7 separate regions of the Homo sapiens genome follow, and all the other regions are reported to be linked to region 6. Evidence: microRNA targets listed by miRTarBase, many of them from high-throughput screens and not tested one by one. Region 6 holds a microRNA gene; each other region holds the end of a gene's coding sequence.
Evidence for each region. Region 6 holds the annotated microRNA hsa-miR-4530 (CCCAGCAGGACGGGAGCG, at 1,637-1,654, opposite strand). A microRNA usually pairs through its seed, bases 2 to 8, with sites in the 3' UTR of a target mRNA and lowers its output. Matches are read on the target gene's strand: a 7mer-m8 pairs with bases 2 to 8, a 7mer-A1 pairs with bases 2 to 7 and ends in A, and an 8mer does both.

Region 1: the mRNA of STX6 is a reported target of hsa-miR-4530. Seed matches in the 3' UTR shown: 7mer-m8 at 1,622-1,628.
Region 2: miRTarBase lists SLC39A9 as a target of hsa-miR-4530. Seed matches in the 3' UTR shown: 7mer-m8 at 1,995-2,001, 7mer-m8 at 2,499-2,505 and 7mer-A1 at 2,869-2,875.
Region 3: miRTarBase lists BEND4 as a target of hsa-miR-4530. Seed matches in the 3' UTR shown: 7mer-m8 at 208-214, 7mer-m8 at 109-115 and 7mer-m8 at 26-32.
Region 4: miRTarBase lists GPR132 as a target of hsa-miR-4530. Seed matches in the 3' UTR shown: 7mer-m8 at 463-469, 7mer-A1 at 607-613 and 7mer-m8 at 750-756.
Region 5: the mRNA of GMEB2 is a reported target of hsa-miR-4530. Seed matches in the 3' UTR shown: 7mer-A1 at 2,637-2,643 and 7mer-m8 at 823-829.
Region 7: the mRNA of ARL4C is a reported target of hsa-miR-4530. Seed matches in the 3' UTR shown: 7mer-A1 at 1,211-1,217.

Annotation. Positions count from the first base shown.
Region 1 is chr1:180,973,514-180,976,856 of GRCh38, reverse strand. It overlaps STX6 (syntaxin 6), which reads left to right. Exons shown (of 8, transcript NM_005819.6): 8 at 211-3,343. The coding sequence ends at 287. Among named protein-coding and RNA genes, the nearest start is that of KIAA1614-AS1, 20 kb to the right of the region's middle.
Region 2 is chr14:69,457,808-69,461,150 of GRCh38, forward strand. It overlaps SLC39A9 (solute carrier family 39 member 9), which reads left to right. Exons shown (of 7, transcript NM_018375.5): 7 at 556-3,343. The coding sequence ends at 786. Among named protein-coding and RNA genes, the nearest start is that of PLEKHD1, 25 kb to the right of the region's middle. RefSeq lists a silencer at 2,481-2,530.
Region 3 is chr4:42,114,851-42,118,193 of GRCh38, forward strand. BEND4 (BEN domain containing 4) reads right to left here. Exons shown (of 6, transcript NM_207406.4): 6 at 1-2,885. The coding sequence ends at 2,668. Among named protein-coding and RNA genes, the nearest start is that of BEND4, 36 kb to the right of the region's middle.
Region 4 is chr14:105,047,814-105,051,146 of GRCh38, reverse strand. It overlaps GPR132 (G protein-coupled receptor 132), which reads left to right. Exons shown (of 4, transcript NM_013345.4): 4 at 1-1,752. The coding sequence ends at 153. All of the region lies in intron 1 of LOC124903398 (a long non-coding RNA gene), which reads right to left. Among named protein-coding and RNA genes, the nearest start is that of GPR132, 16 kb to the left of the region's middle.
Region 5 is chr20:63,587,069-63,590,411 of GRCh38, forward strand. It overlaps GMEB2 (glucocorticoid modulatory element binding protein 2), which reads right to left. Exons shown (of 10, transcript NM_012384.5): 10 at 537-3,343. The coding sequence ends at 3,021. Among named protein-coding and RNA genes, the nearest start is that of HELZ2, 15 kb to the left of the region's middle. RefSeq lists enhancers at 410-579, 1,173-1,342, 3,260-3,343 and a cis regulatory region at 495.
Region 6 is chr19:39,407,993-39,411,335 of GRCh38, forward strand. It overlaps MIR4530 (microRNA 4530), which reads right to left and starts at 1,686; the gene lies at 1,631-1,686. ZFP36 (ZFP36 ring finger protein) reads left to right here. Exons shown (of 2, transcript NM_003407.5): 2 at 1-1,415. The coding sequence ends at 707. RefSeq lists enhancers at 1-545, 546-1,183, 1,446-2,036 and silencers at 1,689-1,748, 2,099-2,418.
Region 7 is chr2:234,492,919-234,496,261 of GRCh38, reverse strand. It overlaps ARL4C (ARF like GTPase 4C), which reads left to right. Exons shown (of 2, transcript NM_001282431.2): 1 at 1-250; 2 at 426-3,221. The coding sequence ends at 456. Among named protein-coding and RNA genes, the nearest start is that of ARL4C, 2.5 kb to the left of the region's middle.

The sequences.
Region 1 (3,343 bases), not on the chromosome of region 6:
GACTGGCAAAGTTGTGACTGCATGCGAAGTGCAGGCCAAGAACAGAGCAGCATTAGAGCATCAGGCACCTAGGCAGGTGTAAGATCATGGCCCCGTCATTTGCACGTTCTGCCCCTTTTCTGCTTCAAAGGGTGCCATAAATTCCATATAACTGTATCTTGGGGAATGTGGAGTCCCTGTGAGAGCTAATCCCCATGTCCTGCCTTCCAGATCGGCGCCAATGGTGTGCCATAGCCATCCTCTTTGCAGTCCTGTTGGTTGTGCTCATCCTCTTCTTAGTGCTGTGACGGCGGGGCCTCTGGGTGCGAGTTCCTCCTGCATATGAACCGAGGGGAGGAGGAGAAGCTGAGCACGTGTGACATTGCCGTCTACTCACATTCCTATCCTGGAAACATACTGCTGCACTGACTTTTCTCCGTGTGACCCCACAATTGACATGGCTCCTCCATCCCAGCGCTGGAAGGGCCAGTGGGAAGAGGAAATAGATGTCTGCACTCCTGGCTGCAGCTGGACAACAGAAGCCCCATGCCGCCTGTCCAGTTCGGAGGAGAACTAGCTGCTGCCTTGCCTTCCGGGACCTCGTTTGCTGAGGAGGGACTTACAGACTCCACTGGTGTTTTGCTGTTGCTCATTCCATGCATCTTTGGCAGCTCTTTTCTTCTGCTCAGACCCTTCCCCGTGCTCAGACAGTGCACCGCTGTCCCATCTAAAGAAACCTGTCAGGAATACGAGCTTCTGGGTATGTTTCGTTTCCCATTGCTGTAGCATTTCTTATCCCCTGAGAGCTGATGATTATTGAGGACAGAAGGCTCAGAAACAGTTTGTGACAGAAAATGCAGTGTTTCATTTTTCAGGGATAAATGCTAAGATAAAATTGCTTTTCCAGGTCATTTTTTTTTGTGGTAAGAATAACTAATGGAAAATAATGAAACACCCTGGGGTTTGGGGGTGCTAACAACTTGTGGCTTTAACTGACAGGAGCAATTAAAAAGAGCAAGAGGGTTCTGCATTGGCATAGCTTAGGGAAGGGTTAATGATGTCGCCACAGGTCAGCTCCTGATCCTTGCCGACTTGATGTTGCTGTACCAGGGCTTCCTCCCCAGAGGTGCAGCTTGCGTTTTGAGGGTGATTGCTACATATGTTGTTGCTAAACAGCTCAGTAACACACTTGAATGAATTTGGATACCAGATTGTCCTCATTACAGTTCTTTTACTCTTAGGGCACTCTACACTGGGGGTTGGGGTTGGGAGTGGTTAGTACATTTATTACATTTATTAAGAAACGTAATGACATAAAAGGTTAGCTCTGGGCCAGACTTCTCTTACTCTGTGGGTAATGGCAAGGATGTGTAGGTAAACTTGGTTCTTTTTTTTCCCTAAGATGACAGCTTGATTTTATCATCTGCAGTCAAATAACTGAGCCAATCCAAATTTAAATGATAGATGCTTTAATTGAGTTTAAGTAGCTGAAACTGCTGAGACACTAAACTTTAACCTTCTGATGACTTTTTAAAATGCCTCAAATGTGCACATGTATATAGGATATTTTTATAACTTCCCTGATGAATAATCTGATATTAAAGTAGTATTTGGACCCAGAGCCAGAACTCGGTGGTGGAGGCTGCTGGTCTCTCCTCACCACCTTCTTTTGCACTTGGAAAGAACAGCAACATCTGGATAGAGTTCTAGCTTTGACTTCTCATTTCCTTGTCTTTTTGGGTGCATTCCTCAGCACACTTTTTTTTTAAACCTTTTTGTTTTGTTTTGTTTGTATTTCATGTGGTTTTATTTGGGGGTTTTGGTTTTTTCACCCTTTTTTGTGATTTGCAATGATGTGCTTGCCCAGCTAACTTTTGAATTGCACTTTTTAATAAATATTCTTAACAATTTTTGAAGAAGGATATTTTATCTCATTTGAGATCATGGTAGGTTAAGAAAATATGCCTGTTGATGAAAGCTAAAAGCAAATTTATGAAACTAAAAGGGTGATTGACATCCATGTTTACACTCCGCTCTAATGTTTGATATATAAATAAGTTATTTTCAAATTAGGAAAAAACAGTGAGTATTACAAAGGGCTTCAGATGTTTAGAGTACTAGGTTATTTATGTTTTACAAAGTTTGAATCTTCTATAAACTAAGAAAGGGGATGATCCTTAGATTTGCATTAAAATATAGAAGTCTTTTAAAGTAAATGTGAACCTTGTCTAAGTACTGTAATCCACACAACACATTATAAGAAGCAAACCAGCATCTTAAGGAATTATAAAATTACCCTATTTAAAAGCCATGCTATTGTTCTGCTATTACCAGATTTATTGTGCCACACAAAAGGATCATGTGTGTCAGCAGGGGCCGTTTGGAACAAACCTAGTCATTAATGAGTAAGATACTCCTGTTAGTTCAGGGACCAAGTTTTATGACCCAGAGGCTTAATGATGTTTGGATATATTTCAAATCGGCGTGCTTACCTCACTGATTTAAATTATTTTCTAAATAGTGGCCATTGTAGACCTGACTCAGGCTGAAGCTAAATAGAGAACAATTTAGAAAGTTAACTAACAATACAGTGCATTCTACCCGTAGGGCCACCATGCCCTTCTGCCCCTGGCTGATTTGATCCTGTGTCTGATCCCATTGCACCCTGACTGGGCAGTCCCTACAGAACCAGTGTTAATTTGAAGGGCCTCCACTCAGGCTCCAAATGTGGCAGCCAAAGAGAACAATCCAGGGAACCTACATTTATTTTTAAGGACAAATATTTCCTCCTCAGTGGTCCTAATGTTCAGGGCTTTAGAGGGAACCCAGGTGGTCTCTTCACCCTGTGTCCTAGAATGGGAGAGTAAGTAGACAGTGGTGATAACCCCACACTGCTTATAAGTGCATCTTTATAGTATTTGGGGCTTTCCTACCCCTTTAGCCTTCTGTACCTAGTACCATATTCCAGTTTTAAAGAACTGGCAGAATGTGATGGATAACAGAGGAAGAGCTCAATTTATGTTTATTGGAAGAACATTTTACTTAAATGATTTGAGGGGTGGGAGGGAGTGAACTACTGAGTTTGCCAGAGTGAAAATCCATCTGAAAAACTCAGCTACCTTTAGTTTTTAGTCCTCATTTTTGGTCTTGTCTCTGCGGACTGTGAAGAATCACAATGCTCTATATGCCCTGGACTGTGTGGCAAATGCAGGTTGCAGCGTGTGTGTTACATGAGGATCTTCCACAATTTCAGAATGCACGCCAGAGCTGAAGGGGGAAACTTGGTAACTTGCCCATTATTCTCTGCTTTTAGCCAGAGTTAAACAGACTGATGGGTCTGGTAGCCAACAACTTGGCAACTTCC
Region 2 (3,343 bases), not on the chromosome of region 6:
GCCCAGGAGTTCCAGGCTGTAGTGTGTTATGATTGTGCCTGTGAATAGCCACTCAACTCCAGCCTGGGCAACATAGCGAGACCTCATCTCTAAAGACAGATACAGTCAATGAATGGATGGACAGAATGATGGAACTGTGGTGAATATAGTTTAATAATAGTGTGTGGTACATATCAAAATTGCTAAGAGTAAATTTCAGATGTTCTCACCACAAAATATGATAAATATTTGAGATGACAGATGTTAGTTTTATTTAATTAGTCCACATTTTATTCATGAATCATAATGTCACTTTATACCCTATAAATATATATAATTATAAATTGTTGATTTACAATAAATTTTTTAAAAAATCAATTGCGTACATCACTGATATTCTTAAACCCTTATTTGGAAGCTTCCCATGAATAACTTAAAGTTGCTGTGTTCTCTAGATGTCCCCAGTGTCCTAGACAGCACCAGTTAAGAACAGTGAGTGTTTTTTAACTGGGACTTCTTCCTGACCCTGAATTTTACTTGACTTAGTTTTTCCTCTTTCTCTCTTCTAATTCACAGAGCAGTAAAGAAGCCCTTTCAGAGGTGAACGCCACGGGAGTGGCCATGCTTTTCTCTGCCGGGACATTTCTTTATGTTGCCACAGTACATGTCCTCCCTGAGGTGGGCGGAATAGGGCACAGCCACAAGCCCGATGCCACGGGAGGGAGAGGCCTCAGCCGCCTGGAAGTGGCAGCCCTGGTTCTGGGTTGCCTCATCCCTCTCATCCTGTCAGTAGGACACCAGCATTAAATGTTCAAGGTCCAGCCTTGGTCCAGGGCCGTTTGCCATCCAGTGAGAACAGCCGGCACGTGACAGCTACTCACTTCCTCAGTCTCTTGTCTCACCTTGCGCATCTCTACATGTATTCCTAGAGTCCAGAGGGGAGGTGAGGTTAAAACCTGAGTAATGGAAAAGCTTTTAGAGTAGAAACACATTTACGTTGCAGTTAGCTATAGACATCCCATTGTGTTATCTTTTAAAAGGCCCTTGACATTTTGCGTTTTAATATTTCTCTTAACCCTATTCTCAGGGAAGATGGAATTTAGTTTTAAGGAAAAGAGGAGAACTTCATACTCACAATGAAATAGTGATTATGAAAATACAGTGTTCTGTAATTAAGCTATGTCTCTTTCTTCTTAGTTTAGAGGCTCTGCTACTTTATCCATTGATTTTTAACATGGTTCCCACCATGTAAGACTGGTGCTTTAGCATCTATGCCACATGCGTTGATGGAAGGTCATAGCACCCACTCACTTAGATGCTAAAGGTGATTCTAGTTAATCTGGGATTAGGGTCAGGAAAATGATAGCAAGACACATTGAAAGCTCTCTTTATACTCAAAAGAGATATCCATTGAAAAGGGATGTCTAGAGGGATTTAAACAGCTCCTTTGGCACGTGCCTCTCTGAATCCAGCCTGCCATTCCATCAAATGGAGCAGGAGAGGTGGGAGGAGCTTCTAAAGAGGTGACTGGTATTTTGTAGCATTCCTTGTCAAGTTCTCCTTTGCAGAATACCTGTCTCCACATTCCTAGAGAGGAGCCAAGTTCTAGTAGTTTCAGTTCTAGGCTTTCCTTCAAGAACAGTCAGATCACAAAGTGTCTTTGGAAATTAAGGGATATTAAATTTTAAGTGATTTTTGGATGGTTATTGATATCTTTGTAGTAGCTTTTTTTAAAAGACTACCAAAATGTATGGTTGTCCTTTTTTTTTGTTTTTTTTTTTTTTAATTATTTCTCTTAGCAGATCAGCAATCCCTCTAGGGACCTAAATACTAGGTCAGCTTTGGCGACACTGTGTCTTCTCACATAACCACCTGTAGCAAGATGGATCATAAATGAGAAGTGTTTGCCTATTGATTTAAAGCTTATTGGAATCATGTCTCTTGTCTCTTCGTCTTTTCTTTGCTTTTCTTCTAACTTTTCCCTCTAGCCTCTCCTCGCCACAATTTGCTGCTTACTGCTGGTGTTAATATTTGTGTGGGATGAATTCTTATCAGGACAACCACTTCTCGAACTGTAATAATGAAGATAATAATATCTTTATTCTTTATCCCCCTTCAAAGAAATTACCTTTGTGTCAAATGCCGCTTTGTTGAGCCCTTAAAATACCACCTCCTCATGTGTAAATTGACACAATCACTAATCTGGTAATTTAAACAATTGAGATAGCAAAAGTGTTTAACAGACTAGGATAATTTTTTTTTCATATTTGCCAAAATTTTTGTAAACCCTGTCTTGTCAAATAAGTGTATAATATTGTATTATTAATTTATTTTTACTTTCTATACCATTTCAAAACACATTACACTAAGGGGGAACCAAGACTAGTTTCTTCAGGGCAGTGGACGTAGTAGTTTGTAAAAACGTTTTCTATGACGCATAAGCTAGCATGCCTATGATTTATTTCCTTCATGAATTTGTCACTGGATCAGCAGCTGTGGAAATAAAGCTTGTGAGCCCTCTGCTGGCCACAGTGAGGAAAGTAGCACAAATAGGATACAGTTGTATGTAGTCATTGGCAACAATTGCATACAATTTTACTACCAAGAGAAGGTATAGTATGGAAAGTCCAAATGACTTCCTTGATTGGATGTTAACAGCTGACTGGTGTGAGACTTGAGGTTTCATCTAGTCCTTCAAAACTATATGGTTGCCTAGATTCTCTCTGGAAACTGACTTTGTCAAATAAATAGCAGATTGTAGTGTCTGGTTTGGTTTGGACAGTAGTGCTTTCTATCATATTGTTGTGTGCAATGGTAATTTGTTCTACTGGCCAAAGCCTCTTTCAGCAGTGCCTTGCCATCATGCTTAAAAGTTTGGCTAGTATATCTTGCTGGATGGAGCCTTGAACTCCGGCAAGGATTGAACCATCTGACTTCCAAATTTGCCTTCCCCTCTGGACCTCACTATTAACAAGCAAACCTTTCAGGGCCCTCTTAGCTCTCAGAAGCTATGTATGGGCTTTCCCAGATTTTAAAGCTGCTGCCTCGAGAACTACTCATTTCTCTCCTGGTCAGCAGACAGAAATAGCCATACTAATCTCATAGGGCTCAAATGCATCTTCAGGCAGCAGGGAACCAAGCAGCGTGGCACAGGCCTTCTTGACTGGAGGAAGAGCTTGCTGGCATGGTGGGCAGTATTCCAGGAGAGGCCATGTCCGTGTTCACTTCTTGGCACATTTCAGTTCCGTTTTCCTCTTGTTTAAAACTGCCTCTTTAGATGTGGATGCCTTAATGCTGTAACACATTTGAAAACATTGGCAATACTTAAGTTGCTGCCATGATTACAGATGGAATTATTGGCTAC
Region 3 (3,343 bases), not on the chromosome of region 6:
TGTGGATATGTCCCAAGGAGAGGAGCCAGCAGTGTCCACAGTGATGCTGTATCACGGCCTCAGTGGCGGCTAGTGCCTGCGTCAGACGCTAGGCTTGGCTAAAGGAACCCAGCAGATACACAAACAGTAGAAGTACAATGGAATATCTCACTCAGGAGCAAAAGTCGTAGGAACATTTCACTCAGGCAAAAGCTGTAGGTCCGAGACCCAGCAGAGGAGTTAGAACTGGCTGTGCGATGCTGAGTATGGAGTCTGTCAGCCTTGTGCAAAAGAGATGCCCAACAATTAGTCTCAACATTCAGAATCTGTGGATGGAGAAACAGCTGATAGAGAAATGATTAACCTGGAATGGGTGCGAGGGAGGAAGAGACCATGTGTAACTTTGGAACAAAAGTGGTGTGCAAACCTGGGACAGCAGCCTTCTCAGGAGGTAACAGTGACAGCCAAAACACAGGCTGCTGCCCCCCGCCCTTGCAGCAGTGGTGCAGGTGCGTTGTCATGTACGGCCATGGAGCAGGGGTGCAGAAAGTGCTCTCATCAGCCTCAGCGAAGACCAGCACGATAGGGCTCCAAGATGATATTTGGATATGAAGAAATATTCAGGACTCTCAAACTTCCAGAAAAACAAGAAGGGCTAGTCTGTTTTTCTTAAAAGCAGTGATCAAATATTGTTGCTTTAGAAAAACAGAACGATGTATTCAGCAGTAAGGACAACTTAAGGCCAATGAAAAATTAAGGTAAGATGGAAAAACAGATGAGGCTATGGTGGTGTTTTTCTTCTAGCGAAGATGTCATGTTGTCAAAGAATCTTATAAGACAGACACTGACTTCTCGGACCTCTAAAAAATGCTTTAAGAGGTATCTTTCTTCCTTGGAGAGCCAAAGAGACTGGTCTCATGGCTGCCGTAAGAACATGGCATTTGCCCATATCATTTCTTTTACTTCCAAATTTTAGCTAATTTGCCCCAAATAGAATTGAATATTGGTTCTCCCTATTCCATTGAATGATATGACAAATTTTAGTTAATTTTCTCAAAACAGGATTGAAATATTAGTGCCCACTACATCATTGAGCAGATCTGACAGATGACCACCTCCATAAACATTAAACTTTTCAATGGATGAATTCTAGTAATACAAAAAAGCTAATAAACAAAAGCTACAGAAAGACCTGTTTCTAGGACTTTGTATATAGTGAATACAAACTAAATATTAAATCTAAAGGACAATTTATGAGTTTATGTTGACAAAAATAGCCCAAAAACCCTTTATCAATGGATGCTCATTAACCTGAATCTCCAACCAATTTTCAAAAACCCTTGGTCATGTCTGTAGATGACATTAGTAGCCTTCAATAAACGCTGTCCATTTAGCCCTTTGCTCTACAAAGAATGTAGTAATCTGGACTAGTTTGGTAAAGAAAGCCTCTCCTGAGTCCAAACAGGAAGCCCTCAGAAATGATGACTCTAGCACCTCTATAGCATTTGCCAATATGGAAAGTTTCCAAAGATACCACTAATTTCACATATGGAACTCAACAAATTAACCAGGGGATAGCGGCACAGTGCTGACTTAGCCATAGCTAAGGGGTACATTGGGGTAAAGGAGGCACGGAGGGGATGAAATGTTTTCATCAAGGACAATGGGAAACAAGTTTCATACAAATTCTAAAGATCAGCTCAGCAGAGAAAGACCCTCAAATTTCAGAGCAATTACTGACAAGCCCATTGCATAGTTGTCAGAATCGCCTTGAAGCTGTGTGTATACAATGCCAGAACATCTAGTCAATTCAGCGAATACCATCAGTCACACCACTTGTTTGGTCTTCAGTGCACCAAACAACTAATTGCTTTAAATTTTCATTGTTCTACCCATCACTTTGGCATTGTGTCAACAAAGCCTGATTTAAGGCTATGGAAACTGCGGATTTATTAACCTACAAAACTGAGCATTTGAAAATGGTTTTGGATCTTTGGATGTTTCTTGACTAACAATGAAAAATGACTACTGTTTGTAAACTCCAGAGATCAAATAGTGCCTTCTTGATCAACACAGTGGTTTTTAAACAACAGAAAAACAGTTGACCTGTAATTAATCACTGTCTGCAGATGTTGCCTCTGTTCTCTGGTTTCCTTTTAGTAATAGACATTATTAATGTCAAAATGGTATATGATGTCATCTATCCTATGTCTTTGCCGAGAAATATGAAGTCAAGTCTTTGGAAAACATAAAGACAACTTATTTGAATTAAGAGAATGTTTGCTTCTTGTCCCTTAACACAACTCCATGTCTCCACCTTCTCCCATGGGCAGAAACACTACCCCAGCCTACCTTGGGGACTATCTCTGCCCAGGTAGCAGAGTTTGAAGATTTCAGAAAGGTAACTAGGAGCTCACCTATTTTTTCACCCTCATGATCTAGCTAGTAATCATTTAAAAATCAGATGTAGTTTTTTCTTTTTATAATATAATATTCCAAAAGTCTGTTGTAGGTGCCACAGACTTCCCAAACAACCCTAAAATGGATTTCTATTTGGGTACTGTGGCAGCTGAGAATGTGTAGACTATGGCAGAATGACAGGCTTTGGACTCTCAGGTGACAGGAACAGGACATTCACAATTGGAACTCTTGAGAGGACCAGCTGCTACAACAGGAAGATTCTGTCCACTAATCCCCAGATCCATCCTGGGAACTTTTATTGAAGACTTCATCCTGAGAAGCCTGGTGATCGATCCCTTCATAAAATGAGCCACCGTTGTGCAGGAAAGTCCCCACCGCCCGCCCCTGTCGGGCGTGACCGACAGCGTCGCTGAACACTTTGTTTATCTGCTCTTCCGAGGGCATCCACCAATCGGGGTTGGAGGTACAATGCATCCTAATGAATTCTGCAGGAATATATACAACATCAAAAAGAGAGAGAGAAAAAAACAGCTGGTTTTTGCAGAAGATGACAGGGCAGGCTGCTTAAACTTTAACAGAAGCTCTATAAGAAAAGCTTTATGGGAAATCCAACGCAATGCCATGATGATGTCACTCATTAGACCCAATTTATTCCATACAAATTTTCTTCTCATGTGCAAAAGTAAAAAAAAAAAATTACACAGATATAGAGGGTAATCCCTCTAAGGAACATTTGCTGTTGAAATAAAAGGTAAATTTGATTTGTAAGGCATGGGATGCACCATGTCTGGTGTAAGTCAAGGAGACAGATTTCAAAACCCAAGTTGTTACCTGCTCACATTTTGAGAATGTTACTATCTCCAGAAGCACAGCAAATACCATTAGCATGGTATTCTTTAACCAGCTACTAATTTGAAGATAGAGTACAATAAAATAACAGTCT
Region 4 (3,333 bases), not on the chromosome of region 6:
ATGAAGACAGACGTCACCAGGCTCACCCACAGCAGGGACACCGAGGAGCTGCAGTCGCCCGTGGCCCTTGCAGACCACTACACCTTCTCCAGGCCCGTGCACCCACCAGGGTCACCATGCCCTGCAAAGAGGCTGATTGAGGAGTCCTGCTGAGCCCACTGTGTGGCAGGGGGATGGCAGGTTGGGGGTCCTGGGGCCAGCAATGTGGTTCCTGTGCACTGAGCCCACCAGCCACAGTGCCCATGTCCCCTCTGGAAGACAAACTACCAATTTCTCGTTCCTGAAGCCACTCCCTCCGTGACCACTGGCCCCAGGCTTTCCCACATGGAAGGTGGCTGCATGCCAAGGGGAGGAGCGACACCTCCAGGCTTCCGGGAGCCCAGAGAGCATGTGGCAGGCAGTGGGGCCTCTTCATCAGCAGCCTGCCTGGCTGGCTCCCTTGGCTGTGGGCAGGTAGCACGCCTGCTGGCAGAGGTACCTGGTGGCTGCCCTGTTCGCATCAGTGGCGATGACTTTATTTGCGGAGCATTTCTGCAAGCGTTGCCTGGATGCGGTGGTGCATTGTGGGCCCTCTGGGCTCCTGCCTCAGAATGTCAGTGAGCACCATGCTGGAGGTCACCCAGCACTGTGGCAGCGCCCAGGAGGGCATAGGGCAGCCTACCACCTCCAAGGGGGCAGGCGCCCTCATCTGGGGTTGGGTCTGTGCTGAGCTGGAGGGCCTCTAGGGAACCGTGGGGCAGGGTGGCCAGCTGCTGGCTCCCAGAGCGCAGCCCAGGCGTCCTCAACGGGGAGCCCCAAATGTCCACGCCCAGAACAACAGTTGGCAGGACAGGTGTGACACAGCCACAGCAGAGGCAAGGGGTGCCAGGAGTCCCCAGCGGCATCCTCGGGGAGATGCTGGTGAGGGGTCCGTACAGGGTGGGGTCCCCACCCCTAGCCCCTTACTGAGGGGGGAGTGCAGCAGTTGGCCTGCTTGTCTGGCGGAGAAAGCCAGCTCCCTGCACCCTCGGGGCTGAGTCAGATCTGGGTCTGCCGCAAAGGCCTTGCCTAGACCAGGTCACACTGATGCCCTGGTTTCCCTATCTGTAAAATGGGGCCAATGACACCTACCTCACTGGGTCACCATCGAGATCAATCCTCCTCCCTGCCCCGACACCTCGGGCACATCGCATGCACTCAGAGCACAGAGCCGGGCAGACGCAGCACCTGCATGGGGAGCCCAGTGCCCGGCACAGCACAGGGGCTTCCAGGGAGGCCGCGCAGGGCCGTGGGGCTGAGCCACGCTCTCGTTTTGTCAGGCAGCTATGCAGTTGCTCTTCCTTGTTTTTGTTTTGTTTTTGTTTTTGTTTTTAATATTTATTTTTTTAGAGACAGGGCCTTGCTCTGTTGCCTGGGCTGGAGAACAGTGGCACCATCATAGCTCACTGCAGCCTCAAACTCCTGGGCTCAAGCGATCCTCCCCGCTCAGCCTCCTGAGTAGCTGGGACTACAGGTGTGCACCACCACACCCAGCCAAAACAGCCATCCTCCCCTTGAGAGTCATCAGAAAAATACATTAGGAAAATGTGTTTAGAAATAAAAGCACAAGGCAGGGCAGTGCTCACGCCTGTCATCCCAGCACTTTGGGAGGCCGAGACGGGAGGATCAGTTGAGGTCAGGAGTTTGAGACCAGCCTCGGCAACATGGCAAAATCTTGTCTCTTTTTTTTGGTATTAAAAAAATCATAAAAATAAAAGAAATAATGCAATTTAACCTTCACAGTTAACATTTCTCCAATTTAACCTTCACAGTTAACATTTCTCCAATTTAACCTTCACAGTTAACATTTCTCCTGCCTTGAGAGGAGTGTGCCCCTAGGCTTCCAGAGGACAGCCGTGACCAGGGACTTGAAAAGTTGGGGCTGAGGTTCTGGACCAGTCTGGAATATTCAGGGCTGGGGCAAAAGGGATCATAACGATGTCCAGCAGGGGCTTTCCTGTGGCTGCTATAACCAGTTCCCACAAGTTGGTGGCTTAAAACAACAAACCGGGCTGGGCACCATGGCTCATGCCTATAATCCCAGCACTTTGGGAGGCCAAGGCGGGCAGATCACCTGAGGTCAGGAGTTCAAGACTAGCCTGGCCAACATGATGAAACCCCGTCTCTACTAAAAACACACACAAAAAAATTATCTGGGTGTGGTGGAGCACACCTGTAATCCCAGCTACTTCGGAGGCTGAGACAGGAGAATCGCTTGAACCCAGGAGGCAGAGGTTGCAGTGAGCTGCGATCGTGCCATTGCACTCCAGCCTGGGCAACAAGAGCAAAATTCCTTCTCAAAAAACAAAACAACAGCAACAACAAAAAAACACAACCAAAAACTGTTTACTCAGGCTGGGCGCGGTGGCTCACGCCTGTAATCCCAGCACTTTGGGAGGCCGAGGCGGGCGGATCACGAGGTCAGGAGATCAAGACCATCCTGGCTAACACAGTGAAACCCCTTCTCTACTAAAAATACAAAAAATTAGCCGGGCGTGGTGGCAGGCGCCTGTAGTCCCAGCTACTCGGGAGGCTGAGGCAGGAGAATGGCGTGAACCCAGGAGGCAGAACTTGCAGTGAGCCGAGATCGCGCCACTGCACTCCAGCCTGGGAGACAGAGCGAGACTCCATCTCAAAAAAAAAAAAACCACTGTTTTCTCACAGCTCTGAAGCCAGAGTCCACTTTTTCATCTTTTGCTGCCACACAGCAACAAATAAGAGCCTCGCTCCCACGTCAGATCCCAGCCTTGGGGACCGGGCGCCGTCTCACCCACCGGTAGGGACAGCAGGGCTAGGCTGAGACACGCAGAGTACCTGGCTCAGGCGAGGGACTGCCTGAACTGGCTGGTGTCACAGTGGCAGGAAAGTTACCAGGCATAGCCGGGTGAGGTGGCACCTGCAGTCCCAGCTGCTTAGGAGGCTGAGGTGAGAGGATCATTTGAGCCTGGGAGGTGGAGGCTGCAGTGAGCTAGCACTGCACCACTGCACACGGGGAGGCCAGGAGACAAAGGCCCGATGGGACCTGGGGATGACACCTCTGTGGCGGTTTCAGAGGGCGCCTGAGCGCAATGTCTGCAGTGAAATTTAAAAATGGACACCGGACCTGTGGGACCCACGGCAGTCACCATCAGGTGGGGAAGCTCTATGCAAAGACAAACCACTCAGAGTGAAACTCGGGGGGTGGGGCTTACCTGATGGGAGGGGCAGCTACGGGGACCTTGCCCAGGGTGAGGCCCAAATGGGACCAGGCACCCAGAAGGGAGGCCCAGCCCAGCCCTTAATGCTGAGACCCTCGAGGGCTGTGGGCGGAGGGCA
Region 5 (3,343 bases), not on the chromosome of region 6:
CTGTGAGCGGCGGTGCCTCCGACGCCAGCCTCGGGTCAAGGTGGGGCCCAGGCTGTTCTTACTATTGTCCTCCAGCGATTTGCAGGACACCTTCAAAACCCTCACGAGTTACCGAATCGGCTGATTCAAAACCCTCACCAGGCACCAAATCGGCTGATGCTCTTGATCTCCGACTTGCCAGCGTGCAGAACTGCATAAATGAACCTCTGTTGCTTGCAAGCCCCCCAGCCTGCGGTATTTTGTTACAGTAGCACTAACGACTAAAACGGCCATGATCCTCCCACCAGGCCTCTTGAAAACTCCGATGCGTGCTGGGGAGAGAAGGACAAGGGCACAGGGCACCTGCTGTGATGAAAACAGCTTTGACCTCGGGACACCCTGGAAGGGTCCTGAAGCCCCCAGGCCACACTTGGAAGAACGAAGCATGTGGGTGTGAGTGGTCCGGGGCGGGGGTGGCAGCCAGCGCTGTTTGCGTTGGGCGTGTTTATAGACTTGATTTCTCTCCACACTTCATTCCAAGAGATAGACACTCAAACTATGAAAATTGTTTTTATTTTAAATCAAAGTACCAGGCAGATACTTGCAAAACAACATACAAAGCAAAACTCAAACATGGCCCTTCCCTAGGGCGCCTCTGAGCAGGCACAGAGAAGTTCTCACCCTCTGCAAAATCCAATCCAATCCTATCTTCTCAGAAAACCAAACCAAAGGCAGCCATGAAAACCCGTGTTCTGTACGTGGTTGAGAAGGTCCTCCTCTCTGAGTACTGGCTGGCCCCAAGGCGCAGAACTGGGAGGTCCAGGGAACCCTGCCCCCGAGGAGCCAGCAGGACCTGGAGGAGCCGGGGGCGGTGCTGACAACAACCTTCCCCACCCACTGCAGTGTGGTTCCCATGAGGATGAGGGCTTCTCCAGGGCCCTTCCCCACGCTGGGGCTTGGAGCCCCTGCCAGAAGCAGCTGGGTTGGCGGTAGATGTCCCCGAGGGCCTTGGGAAGCACTGGGAATGGGCTCCCAGCCCTGGTGGAATGGGGGATTGGGAATTAATTCTGAAGCTGGTTGTGGCTTATTTTTGTATGGCTCTGAAATTAACTTCCTCTCCCTATGCCTCAGTAGCTAAGGGGCAGGGGCAGAAAAGGTCCCAACCCTGTTCTTAAAAAGAAAGGAAATGAACCCACAACCCACTGGAAGTTCTGTTGACGAGGGCTGTCAAGGCAGACGCACTCGTGACTTTGACAAAGGGAAGCAGCTGGAAGGTTGCGGGTCCCAGGGTCACAGGCAGCTGTATTAGTGACAGGTTCTGAGCTGGTGGGTGGGGGCCGCAGGGCTCTCCTGACCCCCGTAGGGTCATACCGCTGCATGCTGCAGAACTCAACTAGAGTGGAAATGAGTTTAAAACGGAGTATGTACATCAAAAGATCAACATCACGCCGAAACCAGCTGACTGTGACAACAGCAAACAAAAATGTAACAGAGAAAACAAACAAGACACAGCCTCAGTAGCTTGACATGGGTGAGGGCAGCCAGGACAGGGCCCTGGTGACAATGGCGCAGAGGTGGGGTCTGGGCCGCTCACTGGACGGACAGCCAGCCAGTTCCCTTCGGAGCAGTGAAGTGGGACACAGGACCCTCGCATTGCGGGGCCTCAGACGGGCCTTCAACTGCCGACAGAATCAGCAGGAGCGTCCAGGGGAATCTGGCACTCAGGGTCCTCCCGGGACATGCCCTGTTGGAGACGGCAGGAGGCCTGGGCTGGCTGCTCCCTGAGATGCCTGCCCCAGGACCCTGGCCTGGAGGGGCCTCAGCCTGGTCTTCCTTGTGAGTCCAAGGCCAGGTCTCAGGACAGCCACAGACAGCCCTTCCAGACAGGCTCTGGGCTCCACCTTCGGCAGCTGCCCTGAGCAGCCCACCCGGGGCAGCCTCCTGAACACCCAGGGGCTCTCCCTTGGACAGAGACCACCAAGGGCCAGCCCAGGGGCTGCATGGGGGCCGGGGGCCAGGGAGCCAAGGGCTGTTCCGTGGCCAAGCAGCCCAAGCTGAAGGGCCCACATGGGAATCCTCGACCTCCATAGTGACTGGTTCTGTTTATGCCTCTGCCCCAGGACTGAAGCCCTAGGGACACACCTCATGGATCTCAGACCCCTGGGAGGGGCCGGCTCAGGGACAGGCTGCCCAGGACCTCCGCACCCGGTCAAGTGCACTCACAGGGGCTCAGGGGCCACCCAAAGAGCTAACTCGGGAAGCCTAGGCACTCACCATTATTTTGGTTGAAAATGCTATAAATCTGACTCTTCCTAGAAGCCTACTAAGCAATTCACTTAAAAACACCCTCAGTACATGTGCAACAATGCCTGGACCACGCCTCGTCTGTGCGGCCCCTGGGCCACCTGAGCACCGGCTGGGGGCGGGGGAGGCAGGCACCCATCAGGATCTGCACCCCAAGCTCCGGGTGCATGTTCCCAACTGGAGGAGAACGGGGCGCCAGCCACACTAAACCTACAGAAAACTGTGGGAAGAAACCAAATCCATAGGATCCAGAGGTTTCACACTTGGGCTTAGCTCCCAAGTCATGAGTTAGTAACGTCCCCAGGGACCTGGCTGGGTGCAGACATGGGGGCCTCGTGACCTGCTGCACCGCGTCCAGCACCTGCAGGGTCGCGCTCGGCACCTGGCTCTGCTTCCTCTGTCTCTGCTGCACCCAGGCTCCCCCTAGCCCCCGCCCACCTGGCTCCTGATCAAGGCCCAATGTGTAAACAGTATTAATAAGCAACAGATGGAAAAATATATTTCCCAAGAAAAAAGGGGGAGGAAACGTGGGACCTGAAGACCGATTTTCCAGGTTGCTCTCGCTGTTCTGTCCCCTTCTCTCTTCTCGTGATTTGTTTTGGCGATTCCTCTCTTTGGTTCTGCAGACCACGTGACCCACCTGCCCGAGCCAGCCCTGCGGCCTCTGCCCGCTCCCTGCTGCCGCGGCTGAGAGACAGCCAGCCCTGTCCGTCCCAGGGGCCTCGCCCTCCTGTCGGCTACTTCCGCTCGTGGTCCTCTGCCATGGCAGCCACCTCAATGGTGGCCGTGTGCTCCTCAGGCCCGGGGGCAGCCCCTGCGGGCACTGTCACAATTGTGCTGGAGCCAGGCGAGGCCTGGGCCACGTTCTGCAGGGTGGGGCCCAGGCCAGGCAACGTGAGCAGCTGTAGCGGGCTGACCACCTTGAACACCGTGCTACCGTCCTGCACGGCGGCCGTGCTCAGGACCGTGAGGCTGGACGCGTCCGGGTGGATCTCCACTGTGCTGGGGTAGGTGGAGCCGGAAGAGGCCAAGACTGTGTATCCCCCGAGCAGCGGGGAGG
Region 6 (3,343 bases):
CTTCGCCCACTGCAACCTCCACCACCCCCTCGCGCTACAAGACTGAGCTATGTCGGACCTTCTCAGAGAGTGGGCGCTGCCGCTACGGGGCCAAGTGCCAGTTTGCCCATGGCCTGGGCGAGCTGCGCCAGGCCAATCGCCACCCCAAATACAAGACGGAACTCTGTCACAAGTTCTACCTCCAGGGCCGCTGCCCCTACGGCTCTCGCTGCCACTTCATCCACAACCCTAGCGAAGACCTGGCGGCCCCGGGCCACCCTCCTGTGCTTCGCCAGAGCATCAGCTTCTCCGGCCTGCCCTCTGGCCGCCGGACCTCACCACCACCACCAGGCCTGGCCGGCCCTTCCCTGTCCTCCAGCTCCTTCTCGCCCTCCAGCTCCCCACCACCACCTGGGGACCTTCCACTGTCACCCTCTGCCTTCTCTGCTGCCCCTGGCACCCCCCTGGCTCGAAGAGACCCCACCCCAGTCTGTTGCCCCTCCTGCCGAAGGGCCACTCCTATCAGCGTCTGGGGGCCCTTGGGTGGCCTGGTTCGGACCCCCTCTGTACAGTCCCTGGGATCCGACCCTGATGAATATGCCAGCAGCGGCAGCAGCCTGGGGGGCTCTGACTCTCCCGTCTTCGAGGCGGGAGTTTTTGCACCACCCCAGCCCGTGGCAGCCCCCCGGCGACTCCCCATCTTCAATCGCATCTCTGTTTCTGAGTGACAAAGTGACTGCCCGGTCAGATCAGCTGGATCTCAGCGGGGAGCCACGTCTCTTGCACTGTGGTCTCTGCATGGACCCCAGGGCTGTGGGGACTTGGGGGACAGTAATCAAGTAATCCCCTTTTCCAGAATGCATTAACCCACTCCCCTGACCTCACGCTGGGGCAGGTCCCCAAGTGTGCAAGCTCAGTATTCATGATGGTGGGGGATGGAGTGTCTTCCGAGGTTCTTGGGGGAAAAAAAATTGTAGCATATTTAAGGGAGGCAATGAACCCTCTCCCCCACCTCTTCCCTGCCCAAATCTGTCTCCTAGAATCTTATGTGCTGTGAATAATAGGCCTTCACTGCCCCTCCAGTTTTTATAGACCTGAGGTTCCAGTGTCTCCTGGTAACTGGAACCTCTCCTGAGGGGGAATCCTGGTGCTCAAATTACCCTCCAAAAGCAAGTAGCCAAAGCCGTTGCCAAACCCCACCCATAAATCAATGGGCCCTTTATTTATGACGACTTTATTTATTCTAATATGATTTTATAGTATTTATATATATTGGGTCGTCTGCTTCCCTTGTATTTTTCTTCCTTTTTTTGTAATATTGAAAACGACGATATAATTATTATAAGTAGACTATAATATATTTAGTAATATATATTATTACCTTAAAAGTCTATTTTTGTGTTTTGGGCATTTTTAAATAAACAATCTGAGTGTAAGCTGGGATCCTGGCTTCTTCGCGGTCTAGAGACAGGAATGGAGAGGGAGGGGGTGACTTTTTGGAAGCTGGGTGCAGTTAACTCTTCCTCTCCGAGCCCCGCGGCGCTTACCTGGCAGGAAGTGACGTCACCGGGCCTGGCCGTTCACCTGAAAGGGTGGGACCAGGTGAGGTCACCAGATGGGAACCGGGGGAGCCAGTTCCCGGGCGTCGGGGGCGCCGCGCTCCCGTCCTGCTGGGCTCCTTGACCCAGCTTCGGGCGGGTGCGGTCGGGGACGGGATGTTTCCGTCCCCACGGGGCCGCGGGAGGCGGGAGGGGCCGGGTGGGGAGGACGGAATGTGCTGGGGCGCGCGCCCAGAGCGAGCGGGGGCGGGCGCGGGGCGGGGCAGCCTGGGGTAGCGGAACCCGTTTCGGGACTAGAGGTTCCGGGGGGGCTTCGACACCTTCTGGATGTTGGGGAAGCGGGTTTAGGGTCTCAAGAGGCTAGGATCTCAACATTTGGGAGTCACAGGTTGCATCCCCTAGCGCTTTAGACTCTAGACCCCTGGTGGCTCGGAGTTGCAGATTTCTGGCCACCCGGGACCCTGGAGCCCGGGAATTACCGGGTCTTGGCATTTCCGAACCTTGGAAGTCCGAGGCTTCGCACACCGACCAGGGTCGGCCCCGCGAGGCCAGGGCGTGTGGGTAGGGGCCGCGCGTCTAGGAGGGGCCCCGGGGGAGCCGCGTCTTCAGACCATACAAGGCCAGCGTCGTCGGGACCAACCCCGGGGCCCCGCGCCCGGAAGCCGCCCTGCGTCAGCGCCTGCGGCTCGGCCCTGCCGCCCAGCCTTCGCCCCCTGCGACCCCTCTTTTTTCTCCTTGCCCCGCACTCCTCCCTCCTCCCTCTCACTTCCCTCTTCTCTCCTTTCCCTACCCTCACCCTTCCTCCTCTTTTTCACTTCCTCCTCTGCACCCTTCTGCCCCGCCCTACACCCTTTGCCTTCTGTTCTTCTCTCCCCCTCCAATTTGTCCCCTCCCTCATTACTCCTCTCCCACTTCCAGCCTCCCCATCCTGCCGTCTCTTACCCCCTTTCTCCTCCTTCCCGTCTCCCTTCTCTCCCTTTTTCCGTCCTTCTTTCCCTCTCCACCCTTTCCTTGCCCTCCCACTCCCCATTGTCCTCTTCCCCTCCTCCCCCTAGCCTTACTCCTTCTCCTCTTCTCTCTCCCTCTGAAGCCCCTTTCCCTCCTCTCCCTTCTCTCTACCCTCCTCAAGCCTCCCTCCTGCTCTCAGGCCTCCTTGGCCCACTCCCCTTGCTCACTGACATTTGGTCTCCTCTTCCAGGAAACTGCTTCCCTTGTGGGAAAGGGCTCAGGCCCTAATAAGTAGAAGAGGATCAGGCGAGAGGGAGTCAGAACCCCTGAGATGCAAAGGCAGCAGAGGGGCAGAGACCAAGAGCAAGCAGTGAAGAGACATTTGCAGAAACAGTCTTGGAGACTGAAAGAACAACATCTCTGGTCCTTCCTTTAGCCAGATCTGATTCTCTGCCCCTTCCCCAAAAAATCCCTCATATAAGAAAACGGCACTTCTCACCATCTACCAGGGCTTAAGCCAGACACCCAGGAGTATCCCTTGACACCTTGTTCTCAAATCCACACCCCAGTCCAACAGCAATCCTGTCTGATCCACCTGCAAAATAGATCCACTATCCACCTGCCCCCACCATGACCCCCACCCTGGTCCTAGCCAACATCGTCTGCCATTTGCATCTTCATAGCAGCCCCAGCCCCAGTCTCTGCTCTAGCCCCTGCCTTCAGTCTCTCCTTTCTCCACTCCCCCACGAGACAACCAAAGGAAGCCTGTTATGAGACCTGAGTCAGGTCACATAAAAGTCAAAGTCCGAAGTCCTCCCCACAGCCCACACAATCTGGCACCCATCGCTTACCCTCCC
Region 7 (3,343 bases), not on the chromosome of region 6:
ACAAGGTGACCAAGTTCGCCGAGAACCAGGGCACGCCGCTGCTGGTCATCGCCAACAAGCAGGACCTGCCCAAGTCGCTGCCGGTGGCAGAGATTGAGAAGCAGCTGGCGCTGCACGAGCTTATCCCGGCCACCACCTATCACGTCCAGCCGGCGTGCGCCATCATCGGCGAGGGCCTCACCGAGGGCATGGACAAGCTCTATGAGATGATCCTGAAACGCAGGAAGTCCCTCAAGCAGAAGAAGAAGCGGTAATGCGCCCGGAGCGACCGGGGAGCGAGCGAGTGCGTCAAGAAAGAATGAATGGATGGATGGATGGTTGGATGGATGGATGGATGGATGAGCGAGAACCCGCGCCCGCGAACAAAGAGCGAACCAAAGCGATGCTTCGAATTTTTAAAACGGAATCTCTGCACCCAAATGCAGGACTGGTGACTTAAGGAGCTGCGAAGTCTGATTTACCGGCCTACTCTCGACCTGCCCCCCACCCCCAGCTCAGGGGACCTTTTGTCTGAACGCCAGAGCTACTGACCAGGTCGGGGGGCCGCGGTGGGGAGTGGAAGAGCCGGTCCTGCTGTCCGCCCTCCCAGCCCCAGGTGGAAGGCTCAGTTGTCGGAAAGACAAAAGCGATTTCTTCCCACTCCTGCAGGGCCAGAAGTTCAGGCTGCCCCGCCTCCACTGGGGGATCGCACCTGTGAATTACCTGAGGTATGCATTTCCCAGAACCGTGGGCGTACCCACCTTGGGGGGCATGTTGGTTCTGGGGGGACCACCTCTCCTTGCATTCAGGGGCTGTGAAGCTGAGTAATTTTCGGTCACAGGGCAGGCCCCTGTTGAAATTTCATTTGTCCTGCTCTGGGCCCAAAGGTGGTGGTGGTTTGGGTCATCAGAGGACTGCCTGGGACGGTTCAGCGGGCACGGAGCGCTGTGCTGGCCTGGCTGGGGATGGCCGCGGAGGTGCCCTTTTCCTGGTGCTTTGTGGTGGCTGCAGAAGACCAGTTTTGTTGAGAACTGCTTTTCAGCCTGGAATCAGACATCTTCCAGATGGTTTGGACCCTGTCCATGTGTAGGTCATTATCACACAAAGAGACCAATAAAAATAAAAAAAATAAAAAAAAAAAAAGACGAACTATTGGAGGTGGTGGCCAATGATGCATTTACTGTTTGCAGGATAGTTAAAGGTGTTTAAAGGGTAAGGCTTTTGGTGTAAATGCTGGATGGGGTGTGTGTGTGTGTGGATATAGGGACCTCCCTCTGTACTGTGTACTGTGTAATCGGCATTAATACCTAGACTCATATGTATGGAATTTTAAATTCTCTTAGCCTACTGATTGGTTTGGATGAGCACACCAGCTGCAGGTGTGTGCTGAATTGCAAGATGGTATTTTTTTTTTTAACCAAGGGATGTCTCTTGTAATACTAACCGCGTGATAATGGGTTTTCAGACATGATGAAAAAAAAAAACTTTTACAAATGAATACTTACCTTAGAAATATTCACCTTAGGAAAAAAGACTTTGCTCTGCCCTTTTATATTCCTTTATGCTGCAAGTGGTGACATGTTCAGATTTCTAATTTGGTTCATTGTGGCCTATCTGGTTTAAGTCTTTCATTAAAAATGTCTCGTTAGAGTATTTGATGTCATGCACCAAAAAAATAAAACCCCACCTTGTTGCAAAAGCTGACCTCGTTGCATGGAATTAAAAGAGAAGGAAAAACACAAGGATGAAGTCTTTCCGAATTCATTCTTGTGGGAACTGGCCTTCGGAGCCAGCCAGCACTTTGGGCAAATGCAAACAACAATGAGTGCTTGAGATAAAAGAAAGTGTGACGTCATGGTCACTGGTACTCAGGCACTTCACAGTTTACTTGAAAGAGGCTTTGGAAAATAGATAAAGTGAAAGAAGAATAAATACATATTTTTAATAATGTAATTTTAAAAATCCTTTATAATCAGGACTGAGTCTTGGTTTGCAGAAGCTGTCACTTACCCTGAAACACAGTATCAAAAGGGAAACTTAAAACATACTGTTTGATTTTTTTATTTCCTCTTACAATCCATGTTTTCAGGTAGAATTATGACTTTCCCCCCATTGTTACACATTTCTTTACAAAGGAGGCCTGTAGAAATTGGACACGATCATGCTTGAGCATGTGAGTTAGTCAAATTATGAGTCCCTGCCTATTGTCCATTACACACCGAATGTTAATTTAAGAACCAGAGGCAGAAGTTCTGGCTTCCTGCTTGAAACCCAATTCTTATATGAAATTTTTTAAAAGCAGAAACCTAGCAGCCCATCTGCTTTTTCTCTTTTGTCGGTGTATTTGGTACCCCTCCAATGCTGGTCTTTTTGTAGAAACTCAGTAGAGAAAGTCTAGCTAAGCAGTGTTGAAAAGCCTGCAAGATTTCAGTTTACATATCGACAGCATATCCACTGATTTCTAAATGGGCTGGTCCCATCATCTGAAGATTCTGTATAGAATTATTAAAAAAAAAATCCATCTTTCTTTATTTTCTTCACATGCGACAATTTCTTAAGCACTTTGACATTTTGGTAGTTCCACACTATTGAGAGAATAATATATTTATTTTGTGACATTGCAGATGCCAAATACTGTAACCTTCTCATGATAACAATACTTAGGTTCAAGATCACTGTTCAAACCCTGTCATGCTTTAAAACTGATGCGAGATGATTTTGTTTTTTGCATAATCAATACTTAAGGGTGCAATCAACTGTTAGTAATTGTGCAGTAAAGTAAAGCCCTGTGGTGTATCAACTACTAGTTAAGAGTCTCAGTTGATTTCTGTAATGTTTGACCTAATAATAGCCCGTTTCGTCTCTGACCCAACAGAGGAAGCACAGATCAAATCACCTTGGAGTGGTCACCAGGGGGACAGGGAGCCCCCCACCAATGTATCAATGGGTGATTTATGATGCCTTCTGCCCTTTGGCGAGTGAATGGGTTTCCCATAGGGGAAGTTGGCCTCCCTCCGTGAGCTTTGGAAATGTTTTCTAATAGACACAGGGAGGCCAGTTCTGTTTCAGAGCAATTATCTTCCCAAATTCTCTGTTCTGGTGTTGGAACTGTGTGCCCTGGTTTCTGTTTTCCTTTCTACTGCTGTAATTCTCTGTCTCATCATCCTTCTCTTTTGTTTCCATAGCCTTTTATAATGCATATATGATGCTGTGAACAGAAATAAATTATTTATACAATCAAATGACTGGGGAGATTTTCTGTGGAATTTTTTGTTTGTTTTTTTGACATTGCTGGTATTCATTCTCTAGGCCTCTGCTGAGTGGGGGGATGGATCACAAGATGGTGTCTGGAGTTCTAGTCGGT